Homo sapiens: one gene and its partner. The protein of the gene in region 1 purifies or fractionates together with the protein of each later gene. This does not show direct contact. Each region holds a gene or a part of one and is shown on either strand. Other genes may lie near its edges.

Region 1 (6,897 bases):
TGTGGGCTCATCTGGACCCACATCATCCACCTAGGACCACCTGGGTGTCTTGAGGCCTGTCCATCTGACCCCAGGGAAGGGAAGCCTGCCCCCTCCTCATGCCTGCACAGGCATCAAGAGTCATGAGCGTACCCATGCCTCTCTCCCCTAAGCCAGCTTGGGGTTTGAAGCCAGAAGAGGGGCCCTTTGTCCACATCCCCTGCTGTAGGGGCAGAAGGTGACAACTGGAGTTGCTGCCCAGATGGGAGGGGCTCACACCTACCTTGGGTGCTGGGACTGCACCTGCCTCCCACAGCAGCACAACCACCAGGCTGGTGACCAGGAGGAGCCTGAGGGGGGGCCAGAGAGGGAAGTGTGAGGTAGGGGAAGGGGACGCCCTGAACTCCAGGCAGCACCCTGATGGGCAGCTGGGAGGCCTGGGCTGGGTTCCTCCTTGGGAGCGCAGGTAGTTTTACTGGACTGTGCTCACATGGGCCAAGACACGCAGGCACAGAACAGGGAGAAGCCCCAGGCCCACCTGCCTCCAGCCCCCCTCAGGCCAGAGCCCACAGCCCCAGCCCCAGACTCTGCTCCTCACAGTCTGGGCAGACCCCACTGTGGCAGGCACTGGTGGTTGGCTTGGAAACTCCAGAGGTTCTGCCATGCCTCTGTGCCGCCCTCCACGTGGGGACACACATGAACACACTTGCACATGGGTGTGGGTATGGGTGGGTATGGAGCAGCGAGGGCCCACAGCCCCACGCCCACAGAGCCCTGAGGCTGCACGCTGCTGCAGGCAGGGCACCTGCTGTGTCCCAGAGCTGCGGGGCCACGGCTGGGGGGCTCAGGGGTGAATGGCAGCACTATTAGGCAGGCAGGCAGGGTGTCAGGTCAGTTCGGACACGGGATGTGTGTGTTTGTGTATGTGGTGGGGGGTGTGCATATGTTGTCTGTGCATGTGTGTTTTGTGGGTGTGGACCATGTGCATGGTGGGTGTGCATGTATGCTGTGGGTGGTGTCGTGTTCGGGTGTGTGTGCACTGTGTGCTTCAGTGTGTGGTGCATGTGTATGTTGTGTGTGGTGCGGAGTGTGTGAGTTCGGGGGTGCGTGTGCTGTGTGTGTATGTTATGTGTGTTTGTGTGTGGTGGATGTGTGTGTATGTTGTGTGTGGTGTGGAGTGTGTGGGCTTGGGTGTGTGTGTGTGCTGTGTGTGCATGTATGTGTTGGATGTGTATGTATGTTGTGTGTGGGGTGGAGCGTAAGGGTTTGGGGGTGGGTGTGTGCTGTGTGCATGCGTGTGTGGTGTGTAGAGTGTGAGGGTTTGGGAGTGTGTCTGTGTGTGCGTGCGTGTGTGATGTGGTGCAGACTTGTCTCTTCAGGGCCCTGCGGGGGAGGCTTGCGTCTGTCAGGGTGGGGTGGTCTTGGGGTGGGGCGGGGCTCTGGGTCTGTACAGGGCTCAGCAGGGCTGCAGTCAAGGGTGTCTGGGGCAGGCGCAGTGGTTCACACCCATAATCCCAGCACTTTGGGAGGCTGAGGTGGGCAGATCACCTGAGGTCAGGAGTTTGAGACCAGCCTGGCCAACATGGCAAAACTCCGTCTCTACTAAAAATATGAAACTGCCTGGGCACGGTGACTCACGCCTGTAATCCCAGCACTTTGGGAGGCTGAGGCAACAGATCACTTGAGGTTAGGCATTCGAAACCAGCCTGGCCAATATGGTGAAAACTTGTCTCTACTAAAAATACAAAAAAAAAAAAAAAAAAATTAGCCAGGCGTGGTGGCAGGTGCCTGTAATCCCAGCTACTTGGGAGGCTGAGGCAGGAGAATCACTTGAACCTGGGAGGTGGAGGTTTCAATGAGCCAAGATGGCGCCACTGCAGTCCCTCCAGCCTGGGCGACAGAGCGAGACACTCTGTCTCAAAAAAAAAAAAACAAAACTTAGCTGGGGGTGGTGGCACACACCTGTAATCGCAGCTACTCCTGCTGAGGCAGAAGAATCAGTGTCTGGGACACCCTGCAGGCCTGGATTGCAGCTCCACAGGGACCTTTGCCCGTTCTCTGGGTGACTCAGCCATGGTGAGAGGTCAAAGGGCAGGGGGGATGCCCCGGACAGCCCGGGGCCGGGACCTGGTCTGGTCTGGTTCGGGGGCCCTGCTTCTCCTCAGGACCCCCAGCTGGTTCTGATGCTGGGCAGGGGCTCTTGTCTGGGCACTGGACCCCAATCCCACTGCCGTGCTGCCTGGGCCACCCCTGGTGCCCACCTCCCATGACACACAGCCTGGGGGCCTGGGATTCGGGTCACGGTAGCCCCTAGAAAGGTGGTCGGTGGTGACTGCCAAGCAGCCTGGCTGTGGGATCCCCGTGGGTCCCCTCTCCAGGCAAACGGCTCTGGGCACCAAAGGGTCCCCAAGCTACCCAGAAGCCACCTCTCTACAAGGGAGAAACACCAGGAGAGGAGGGGCAGGGAGGGCCCTGGCTTAGAGGAGGGGGAAGAGGAGGAGGGCACCTCCACAGGAGCGGGGAGAGGGGTCCCCCACACAAGGAGGGGGAAGACAGACACCCCCACAGAAGGAAGGCAGCCTCTGATTCCAGGGTCCAGCGGGAGCCCGGGTGCTTCCCTGAGCTCCAGATCACAGCTCCCAGGGTGACACCACCTCAGGGCAGCCCCTGGCTCCTGCGCCCCAGCCCCTCCCCTCCCCCAGCCCCCTTCCTTTTGGGCAGTCACAGGCCTGCTGGTTTCAGCCTGGCACCTCCCCTTTCCTTGTTCCGGGTGGGGGTCCCTGGGTGATTCTCCACCAGGCCAGGGGAACCAAGAGGCAAGTGCACTCGGGGCCACAGAGGAGGTAGAGCCTGGTGGCAGACCCCAGACCCTCAGAGGGCCCCTCCTTCTCCCTCCCACCCGCACACTCCCCTGAACCAGGCCCCCTGGAGCGCAGCACAGCTGGGCCCCCTCTGGCTAAGGGCCAGGCCTCCAGGTTTGGGTGGGGTGGGGATTGGGGCTCAGGGATGGTGGCATTACCTCCTCATGTCTGGGGTCCGCGTCTCTGTAGAGAGTGCTCAGGGAGCTGCAGTGGCTGATCCCAGTATCTGGCACCCGGCCCAGCTCCTCCTGCCCAGGCCCAGGCCAATTGGGGCTTTGTTGCTGCCGCTTGGGGCGTGTCAGGACAGAGGTCGGGGCCAGGGATCCCACCCTGGGTAGCTCAGGTGACTGGCTCTGCAGCCGCCCAGCCCACTCGGGCCTGGATCTGAGCGGGGACACCCAGCTGCCTGCTCAGGGCCTGCCACACGACTGAGGAAGAAATTTGCCTTTAAAAACATGCTTGTTGACCGGGCGCGGTGGCTCACACCTGTAATCCCAGCACTTTGGGAGGCTGAGGCAGGTGGATTGCCTGAAGTCAGGGGATTGAGACCAGCCTGGCCAACATAGTGAAACTCCGTCTCTACTAAAAATAAAAAAAATTAAGTGGGCGTGGTGGTGGGCTCCTGTCATTCCAGCTACTCAGGAGGCTGAGGCAGGAGAATTGCTTGAACCTGGGAGGCGGAGGTTGCAGTGAGCCGAGATTGCGCCACTGCAGTCCAGCCTGGGCAACAAAGAGCGAAACTCAGTCAAAAAACAAAACAAAACAAAACAACACCAAAAAAAAAAAACCTGCTTGTCATGAAGGCTGAACCGTGCTCACAACCAAGGCAACTTGGAAGGGTGTCGTGGGCAGCTGTCCCCAGCTCAGCTGAAGCACTTCCTTCCTCAGGTGGGCGTGACAAATCCCCCATCCAGCCCCAGCCCACCTGCCTGTCACACCTGCCCCTGCCCACCACCTGCGGCAGGGCGGGACCAGCTCAGCTCCACCACCGTGGAACCCTCACCCCCAACGCCACCACCTTCCCCACCCCTTCCAGGCGCTCCCTCCTGTCCTTCCTTACTGGGCACACCAGCCTGAGGAGTCTTGCACGCTGTGTGGCCAGGGCCCGCTCCACGGGGCCCAGTGCCCTCATTGCCTTTTTTATTTTATTTTTTTTGAGACAGTCTCACTCTGTCACCCAGGCTGGAGTGCAGTGGCGCGATCTCAGCTCACTGCAACCTCCGCCTCCTGGGTTCCAGTGATTCTCCCGCCTCAGCCTCCTGAGTAGATGGGACTACAGGTGTGCACCAACACGCCCAGCTAATTTTTGTATATTTAATAGAAACGAGGTTTCGCCATGTTGCCCAGGCTGGTCTCGAACTCCTGACCTAAGTGATCCGCCTGCCTCGGGCTCCCAAAGTGCTGGGATTACAGGCATGAGCCACTGCGCCCGGCCCTGACCACCTTCTTTAGCCGTCCCTGGCACACCCTGTAAAACAAAAACACAATTCCAATCTCCGCCTGACCCCACCCGACTGATGGACCCTCCCTAAGCCCAGGGCATTCCACGGTTAACCTGAAAACTAGTTCAGGCCATAATGGGAAGTGGGGGTCAGACAGGCCTCATTGTACCCGCCTCCTTTTGGAATTCAGGCAAAACTGACCAGCATTAACATTAAAACAGAGACCTTAAGACTAATAGAACAGACTCTGACAAGAAATAGTCCCTTTTATTGATTCTATCTGCATATACTTGGTCTCCACAACACCTTATCTTAACCCTGACTTTCCCTTCTATTGATTCTAGGTCTTTAGATAATAACTTAACTCTTTTGACCAATTGTCAATTGGAAAATTACTGAATCCACCAATGACCTGGACACCCGCCGCCTTTCTGGACCAAACCCATGTACATCTCCCACGTACTGAGTGATGTCTCGTGTCCCGAACATGTATCAAACCAGCTGCACCCCAACCCTCTCGGGCCACACATGTTCTCAGGATCTCCTGGGACGGCATCATGGGCCTTCCGTCACTCATATTTGGCTCAGAATCACTCTCCAAGTATTTTACAGGGTTTCACTCTTTTCCTCGACAACCCCCAGCGGGCAGCTACTGTTGGGGGCTCTGAGACCGCCGGCCTGCAGGGTATGGTTCTCCCGAAGCTGCATGTTCAGACACAATTGGAGGCCGTGCTTCCAAGGGGGTGGAGTGAGGGCCCTCAAGAAAGGCCAACTCAGGAATTTCCAACGTGACCCACAGCGTCTGAGCTATTGAGGAGGGGTCACCCGAAGAAGCCGCTGGGCTTGGGTGAGAACAGATGTTCCTCTGGCCTTCTTGCCTGGGGCTGCTCCTGAAACCACCTTTGCGAAAACCTGATAGTGAATCTGACCTAACCGACTCCACCTTGCTTCTAACCTCCAACCTGTCCTTGTTCATTCCTGGGTGTAGGTCACACCAACTTTGGGAGGATCTTAGTTTATAGTTTAATGTTGAAACAAAGATGAAAACAGCCCCTTCCTGAACAAACCCCCTTCTTGCCTGGGGACCAGACTGCCTTTGTAAAACTAACAAATTAGTCACAAGATTAGAAATTATGGTTTAGGAAACTTCTAGTGGCTTGAGGTATCGGCCGGAGCGGCCGGGTGGCGGGAGGAACCGTTACGGGAACTGAAGTTGCCGATTAAGCCTGATCAAGATGCCAACCTCCCAAAAGCACCGAGACTTCAGGGCAGAGCCCATGGGGGAAAAGCTAGTGGGGAGCCTGGCCAGGATTGGTGAAGTCCTGGGCAAGAAGCTGGAGGAAAGGGGCTTTGACAAGGCCTATGTTGTCCTTGGCCAGTTTCTGGTGCTGAGGAAAGATGAAGACCTGTTCCGGGAATGGCCAAAGGACTCGTGGTGCCAACACCAAGCAGTCCCGGGACTTCGGATGCCTTCGAGAGCATGCGATGCCTTCTTGTGATGCTCTCCAGGAAGCTCTCAATCCCCAGCCCTCACCCAGAGTTTGTAGCCGAGTCGGGACTCCTCCCCTGTCCTCTACAAAGGAGAAGATTGCTATTGTCATACTCACGTCTGACGCACTCTGGGTCTTTTGGGAGTTTTCTCCCCTAACCATTTCAACTTTTTTGGACTCTCACTCTTGCATGTCTCCCCCTTCCTTTTTCACTTTCCCTGGTGACAGTTACCAGCTTTCCTGAATGGATTCCTGGCCCCGTCCCTCACCTCCACCCTCACTTTCAGTCCATTTGATACTATTTGGCTCCTTTTTTGGCAGAACAGTCACTGTCCTTGTAAAGTTTTTTAGATCAAGAAAGTCAGTGGCTTTCATGAAAAATAAAAAAGAAATTATGTTTTAGGTGTCAGGCAGGACCGGGCGCGGTGGCTCACGCCTGTAATCCCAGCACTTTGGGAGGCCGAGGCAGGCGGATCACGAGGTCAGGAGATCAAGACCATCCTGGCTAACATGGTGAAACCCCGTCTCTACTAAAAATACAAAAAATTAGCCGGACGTGGTTGCAGGCGCCTGTAGTCCCAGCTATTCGGGAGGCTGAGGCAGGAGAATGGCCTGAACCTGGGAGGCGGAGCTTGCAGTGAGCAGAGATCACGCCATTGCACTCCAGCCTGGGTGACAGAGCGAGACTCCGTCTCAAAAAAAAAAAAAAAAAAAAAAAAAGGAGTCAGGCAGCTGGAGGCCACAAGATTCTAAGCCTCCCCAATTATTCTTAGGGAAAACATCACTATTGTAAATCCTAAGATTGGTGCTCGAGACATTTTTCGGACTCTGAACTTGGTGGAACAGCTGGTGCCACCCAGATCCATGAACTGGCTCACCTGGTCTTGTGGCCCCCACTCAGGAAGTGACTCAGCACAAGAGGACAGATTCGACTCCCTGTGATTTCATCTGCAACCCAACCGATCAGCACTCCCTGCTTCCCAACCCCTACCCACCAAATTATCCTTTAAAATTTGAGTAGTGATAAAGCTCCAGCCTCCCGTTCAGCCGGCTCCGCGTGAATTAAACTTTCCGTGTTGCAGTTTCTCTCTGCCCTGATAAATCGGCTCTCTCTGGGCAGCAAGC
Region 2 (7,436 bases), on another chromosome or scaffold:
ATGATGGACTTTGTGCCCCTTCACCTTGAAATTGAGTAGGCTCGGTGATGGCTTCAATGAATGGAATACACCGGAAGTGTGACCTGCAAAGCTAGCTTAGAAAAGACCATGCAGCATTTGCCTATTTCTCTTGGGACACCAACTCTGGGAGGCTTCTGCTGAGTGGCACTAGCCACCCAGCACTTTGAGCCTCCCTCTGTTCAGGCAGTAGCCCTGTGAGTGAAGAGCCTTGCATGACTCTAGGCCACACCATGATCTGATTGCAAGCACATGAAAAGCACATGAAAGTGAGACAGGATGAACAGTCTTCCCCCAAATCTGTGGGCAAAGTAAATCATTGTTATTATTTTAAGCCACGGTATTGTGGCAGCTTGTTAAATAGCAATACATAGCGGAAACAGAGATGATGACTTAAGTTTTAGACACGTGTCTGGAGAGTCTAGAGAAGATGTTTAAGAGACAGAAGTTCTGATCTTGGGCTCAGGAGACTGCTTGGGGCTTAAGAATTTACTGATGCTCTTCCCAGGTTTTCATCTGTATCGGATTCCGCATGTGTCACAATTGCAAAGCAATTGCACATTTTTTATTTTATTTGATCTTAATAGCAACCCCTTGAAGAAATGAGGAACAGATTATTATACCCATTATGGAGCTGAGGAAGCTGAGGCTCAGGAAGCTTTAATGACTTGTTGAAAATTCCACAGCATGGAACCCAGATAGAACTAGGTCATCTCATTTCTAGTACAATACTCTGTCTACTTCATCCTGCTAAGTGTTGTGGACAGATGGGGAATTGGGTAGTTGTGGAGCATGCCCTAAATCATTGCCTTGAAACCAAAGAACTGAGAAACCCAAGTCTGAGGAGAGAAGGAAGAAGAGAGCTAAGAGTGCTTCTCAAAGTTTTCCACAGAAGCATCCCTTACGGCAGAGGAGAGAACTACTTGCACTTCTCAGGAAGATATGGATGTGTAGTCCAAAAGGAAGTTTTTTGAAGTTGTTCATTCATTTGTGTAACAATTATTTATTGAGCACATGCCACACTCCAGGCCTGTGCTAAGTTCAGCAGCACAACACTGCACATGGTTTCTGTCCTCAAAAAGTTCAAGGAAACAGATGATCCACCAAGCAATTCACAAACCATAATCTGGAGCCTGAGGTTCCCATCTAACCATGCCTTCAGAACACAGTCACAGGCAGACAGTCCAAGAAGAAGTCACATAAAAACAGAAGCCTAAAAGAGAGGCAGGGAGAGGGCAGGAGGGAGAGAAATCTAGGTGGAAAGAAGGCATGTACATAAGCCCAGAGGTAAGAGAAAACGCCTCTTTTAAGGCAAACAGTAAAATTAAGAGATTTAGACACATTGACCTTCACCAAGATTCCCTCGCCTTAGTCTAGGAAAGGTATAATCATAATAGAATGGTTTGGAAGTTAGACCTGTGTGCCCTTAGGAGAATTTCTTAATCTCTCTGCAAGACAGTATTCTCATCTGAAAAATGTAGATAATAATAGCCACCTCACTATTTTCTAATGAAAGTTAAATGAAAAAGTATGCAAAAGGCCTAGCACAATGTCTGACACACAGTAAGTGCTTAATTTGTATTTTACTAACCCAGGTTATAGCCCGGGTGTTATAACCCAGGTTTACTAACCTCATCAAAACCAATATTATCCATTCAAAGGATAACATAATCAGGTGTGGTCTGATTGTTTCAAAGAAGAATAAATGACCAAGATGAAGCCTAGAAAAGAAGTCAGAGAAAGGTCAACTGTCAGGATGTTTTCAGTATGCCTAGAGAAAGTCCTAAAATATTCCAATTCTCATTGGCAACCCTGCTTTTCCCAATAGTTAGATGAATACTTCACATCAGCCCCCAATCCCAAGGTCATACCAATGTCCTATGCATTGAGTCAGGCCCACAGAACCTATATAGCCGTAGACTCACACAGTCATGAACCAAAGGACTCTACCTGAGAGGTAGAATATGTGAGAGACCGATCCTCCACACATTCTACCTCATCTCCCCAAAAGTTACAAACTATCATCATTTTATGCCACAGTGTGACTACCACATGTTTGTTGATTTTTACTGTTTTACTCAGAGTGGTGAGCATTAAAGCCCTTTAAATTAAAAAGACTTGAGTATTTACTTGGGGGAATAGCAAGAAAGTCAAAGGTTTCACTGCTGTTTCTCAGCTGGCATAAGAAGAGAGGTACTGGATGAAGAAAGAGGGTGAGGCAGCTCTAACAGGAGAAGGAAAGTTAGCTCAGCCCTTGGTCACACACCGGGGACCGAACAGGCTGTGGCAGAGGAATGGACCTTAACTCTTAGCAATCAGATGTGTTAAGGTTCCTTTGATGCTGAAGCACTTCCAGCCTCTTCTCAGACCCTCATTCAGAGACCCCAGACAGCAATCCTTTCCAAGCTTTTCTTCCTATAATTTTGATCTATCTTTTCTTTGGGTCAATGACAATATCATTTACCTTGGCTCAGGATGCAACACCTCACATATACAGAGGTCTCAAAGAATGCCTAAGGGAGTACAGTGTGTCTGAGCATAAAATGCAGCAGCTGTCAGTGTAGAGCTTCTTCTTATTCAAAATGAAAAAACAAACACTTTTCCACAACTTCATGGACCACCAACCACGGGACAAAATATGAGGAGCCTACTTCTCTTGCTCCCCAGGTTCCTGTTTTGATCACATCCCCGTGGGAAAGGAGATGAAGCTCCATTCATCAGTGCTAAGAAAGGCTCCCCAACCATGCCATGGCCATGCTATTGGAATGGAAATACCTGCTTTCCAGACACCAGATCTGGCTTCTAGGGTTGAACTACATCCCGTCTCCCCTTTCCCAACTGACCATGCCTTCAGTGCACAATCACAGATACACAGTTGGTGGAAAGTACCTTGAATGCTGGTCACCAGGAGTGACAGAGGCAGCAGTAGCAATTCCAGAGCCAGACACGAATCCCAACCTCTGGAGCACATGCTTCCTTCCAGAACTTCCCAGCAACGCAGGAGACAGTTGAGAGCCTGGCTAGAAAAAGGCCGGGGCTAAAAACGGAACTTACCAAACAGGGTTAGAGAGAAAAAAAAAAAAACCACTGAGATTTTCTCTCCACCCAGCACACTTGTGTGGGGCCCCAGAAACCAGAAACCGGAGGTCTTGTAAATTTTTTTATCTAAGAGCATCACGGAAACTGAGAACAATTTTGTTTGAAGGTACATGAGTGCTTTTTTGTAGGGGGAAGATTCATAGCTTCTACTGTACTCTCAGGGGGGCCAGTACTCAGAAAAGAATAAGGGACCCTGATAGAGAATGTCTGCTTTTCGTTCCCAGGCAGGAATCCCTCTGATTAATTCAGGGGCTAAGACATAGGAGCTTCCCAGTCAAGCCTGGGTAGGTGTCATTCAGAGCCTGAAGTCTGGGAAATCAGACCCACGTAGCCTTTGTGCTGCATATCTTACCCCCAGCACCACCCTCTGCTCTTCTTCCTTTATGATAATTCACTATTTGAAGTTTGACATCAGCCTATCCACTGAACATCAGAAAAAAAGTAAGATTACTTGGCCCAAAAGAATGGATTTCCCACCCTTGTAGTCTGTATTAGTCTGTTCTCACACTGCTAATAAAGACATACCCCAGACTGGGTAATTTATAAAGGAAAGAGAGGGGTTTTGTTTTGTTTTGTTTGTTTTGGTTTTTTTTTTTTTTGAGATGCAGTCTCACTCTGTAGCCCAGACTGGAGTGCAGCAGTGCAATCTCAGCTCACTGCAACCTCCACCTGACAGGTTCAAGCAACTCTCCTGCCTCAGCCTCCTACATAGCTGGGATTACAGGCAAGCACCACCATGCCCAGCTAATTTTTGTATTTTTAGTAGGGTTTCACCATGTTGGCCCGGCTGGTCTTGAACTCCTGACCTCAAGTGATCCACCTGCCTCAGCCTCCCAAAGTGCTGGGATTATAGGCATGGGCCTGTGCCTGGCCAGGAAAGTGGTTAAATTGACTTCTAGTTCAGCATGGCTTGGGAAGCCTCAGGAAACCTACAATCATGGTGCAAGGGGAAGCCAATACGTCCTTCTTCACACGGTGGCAGGAAAGAGAAGCACTGAGCAGCAATGGGGAAAGCCCCTTCCTTATGAAACCATCAGATCTAGTGAGAACTCACTATCACGAGAACAGCATGATGGTAACTGCTCGTATGATTAACTTACTTCCTACTGGGTTGCTCCCATGATATGTGGGGATTATGGGAACTACAATTCAAGATGAGATTTGGAAGGGAACACAGCCAAATCATATCATGTCTAGGAAATTTCAAGCTCATTCCTATTGAATGTAAATTAGTTATTTGCCCACCCAGGACCCACAGGCAAGCCACAGTTCCTGATATAACATATTTGTAATCACTTTTTAATTGGGGACATTTCTGATTCTCAACATGGAGATGAACAATAAAATGTCTGCTCTTCTCAGTCCTCAAACCTGAAGGACATTATGTTAAGTGAAATAAGTCATGCACAGAAAGATAAAAAACCACGTTCCCAATCATATATGGAAGCTTAAAAAATGAGCTCATAGAAGTAGAGAGTAAAATTGTGGTTATCAGAGGCTGGGAAGGGTAGAGGGAAGTGGAGGATGGGAAGAAGTTGGTTAATAGATACAAAGTTACAGCTAGAGAAGAGGAATAAGTTCCAGCATCCTGTAGCACTATGGAGTGAATACAGTTAAGAATAATTTAATGTATATGTTCAAAAAGCTAGAAGAGAGGATTTGGAATGTTCCCAACACAAAGAAATGATCAATGTTTGAGGTGATAGGTATCCTAATTGCTTTGATTTGATCATCACACATTGAATACATGTATCAAAATATTACTCTGTATCCCATAAATATGTATAATTATTATATGTCAACTAAAAATAAAAGGGAAAAAAACATAAAAGTGAAAAGAAAGAACCCTGCAAATAAAATTTGAAACAGCACCAGAATCAAATTCCTCTTGGTCAAATTGTTACACTTTGGAACTGTGTGTTATATTTTTCCTATAAATTGATTTAACCTTAGGATACGACCCTGCTCCTTCAGCAAGAAAAGATAACATTGTATTAGATTTTTAAAAGAGACCCTGTAAATTAATGTTACATTCTCTTTTTTGGGGGGAGGGGGGCACAGGCTCCCACTCTGTCACCCAGTCTGGAGTACAGTGACCACTATGCATGGCTATTTTTTTAAAATTTTTTGTAGAGATGAGGTCTCACCATGTTGCCCAGGCCAGTCTTGAACTCCTGAGCCATAGGATCCACACTCAGTCAGTGGCAGGACGGGGAGTGCTGTGACCTGCTTCCACCTTGGGCACCAGTGTCTAAATGAAGGGAACACAGTGGCACTAAGAAACTCGGAGATGCCAGCAACTGCGGAGCCCTAAGGGGTGTTACAGCTTTGCTTGGGGAATCCCAAGGCCTGAGACCCCAAGAAATGTTACAGCTCTCTCTCTCGTTCCTGCCACCTGCAGCTCAGCAAATGAGGGCACCTCACAGCTCTTGTTCAGTCCCACTGCCTGCAGCTCAGCAAATGGGGGCATGTCACAGCTCTTATTTAGTCTTGCTGCCTGCAGTTCAGTGAATGGGGGTGTGTCACAGCTCTCACTTGGTCCCAGTGCCCACAGCTCAGCAAATACGGGTATGTTACAGCTTGTTCCTGCCACCTGCAGCTCAGCAAATGAGGGCACCTCACAGCTCTTGTTCAGTCCCACTGCCTGCAGCTCAGCAAATGGGGGCATGTCACAGCTCTTATTTAGTCTTGCTGCCTGCAGTTCAGTGAATGGGGGTGTGTCACAGCTCTCACTTGGTCCCAGTGCCCACAGCTCAGCAAATACGGGTATGTTACAGCTTGTTCCTGCCACCTGCAGCTCAGCAGGTCCTGGGTTCTTGTCCTGCAACCAAGAGGAATAAAGCATGCAGACAAAGGAGAGTGAGTAGGTCAGAGAATAATTTTATTGAGTGACAGAAGGAAAGCTCTCAGCAAAGAGGGGACCAGACAGTGGGTAGACCACTGTGTGAGAGGGGCCCCAAAACAGGTAGCCCTCTGTGAGGCTGAGTCTGGGGTTTTCATCGGCTCAGATTTGTCCATAGGCAGGCCTGGAAAAAGCACCATTCGATTAGCTAAAAGGTATCAAGGAAGTTCTCACTCTGGTTGTGGACTCTACCCAGAACTGGCAGCCCAGTTTTCAGGCTTTAAACTGTCTTTGTCTTGAAAGTCTAGTTTCACCAGGGACCCTTTTCTATCTGTCCAGGAATTTGTCTGTCTCCTGTCGCTATCACTTTGGGAGGCCGAGGAGGGCAGATTGCCTGAGCTCAGGAGTTTGAGAGCAGCCTGGGCAACATGGCAAAACCCCATCTCTACTAAAAGTAAAAATAAAAATAAATGTTAAAATACCTCCTTTGAATGTTGTTGTGAAAAGTTGAAGAAAGGAAAGAACTTTTATCTGAAGAATGTGAGTCCTTCAAATTATCAGAGAGACATTTAAATGAGACAGAAATCACATTTTACTTCCCCCTACTCCACCTTTGGGCTATGTATTCACCTCTTAAAACTACTTGCTATTGCTGCAAGTAACCATAAATTAATCTAATAATGCTGCACTGGACATATAACCCACACCTTACAGCTTAACAATATGTAACCAATCACTAATTAATGTTATTTCTGCAAACCAATGAGAATTCCAAAAAAAAAACTTTGTATCACTTTTTTTGCCTTTAAAAACCTGCTTGTAACAAAGGCTGAGCAGAGCTCAAAACCAATTTTACTTGGGTCTGAGTCTTCCAGGCAGCTGTCCTCCCTTTGGCTCAAGTAAAGTCTTCAAATCATATTTTGTGTTTCAGCCTCTTTCTTTTAGATTGACAAGTAAACAGCTCTATAATTCTCAACAGTCTGCTTAGATGTGAATTAATAGCCATGGGATATAGGCTGATGTTAAAACAAAGGATGAAATATAAACTTAAGCCAAGGAATCTTCCTCCTTTTGCATGGTAACAGCGGGCACTGAAGTACTATGGGTGCCCATTCTGAGGTTCAGGACTAGCTAGTTAGGCTTCTGCATAGATTCAAAAACAAGTCTGAGAGAAGTGACCAATAAAGGCTCAAAAGCCCTCTCCCTGCCCTAAGTGAATCAGCTGTTCTTGCACCAAAGCCCTGGTTGCAGAAATCCCTGAAGTTTGGGCATACCCAGAGGTGGGGCTGCAAAGACCCTAGAAGATGAAGTACAGGTCAACAATCCTCATGATGTGAATTAAAATACACACTCTTCTCAGTATCTAATCTGGTGGGCACTTGACCTACTGCTTGACTTTGACAAAGTGATAGTAATGACAGAAGCTATTATTTTCTGTGTATCTACTAAGTCAAGTACTTGCCAGGACCTTTGCCTA

The links. The genes of interacting proteins can lie anywhere in the genome.
Region 2: the proteins of PRAP1 (region 1) and CD48 purify together in Homo sapiens (affinity purification with mass spectrometry; 3 studies listed by BioGRID and IntAct, with this or other methods). This does not show direct contact.

The regions. Positions count from the first base shown.
Region 1 is NC_000010.11:133,343,527-133,350,423, reverse strand, and holds the start of PRAP1 (proline-rich acidic protein 1 isoform 1 precursor), read right to left. Parts: upstream 3,052-6,897; 5' UTR 3,007-3,051; coding exon 2,999-3,006; intron 330-2,998; coding exon 263-329; intron 1-262. Other genes in the region: ZNF511-PRAP1 readthrough, read right to left, coding at 263-329. UniProt on the Homo sapiens protein: Lipid-binding protein which promotes lipid absorption by facilitating MTTP-mediated lipid transfer (mainly triglycerides and phospholipids) and MTTP-mediated apoB lipoprotein assembly and secretion.
Region 2 is NC_000001.11:160,708,775-160,716,210, forward strand, and holds the start of CD48 (CD48 antigen isoform 1 precursor), read right to left. Parts: upstream 3,049-7,436; 5' UTR 2,990-3,048; coding exon 2,908-2,989; intron 1,715-2,907; exon of another isoform or gene 1,650-1,714; intron 1-1,649. UniProt on the Homo sapiens protein: Glycosylphosphatidylinositol (GPI)-anchored cell surface glycoprotein that interacts via its N-terminal immunoglobulin domain with cell surface receptors including CD244/2B4 or CD2 to regulate immune cell function and activation.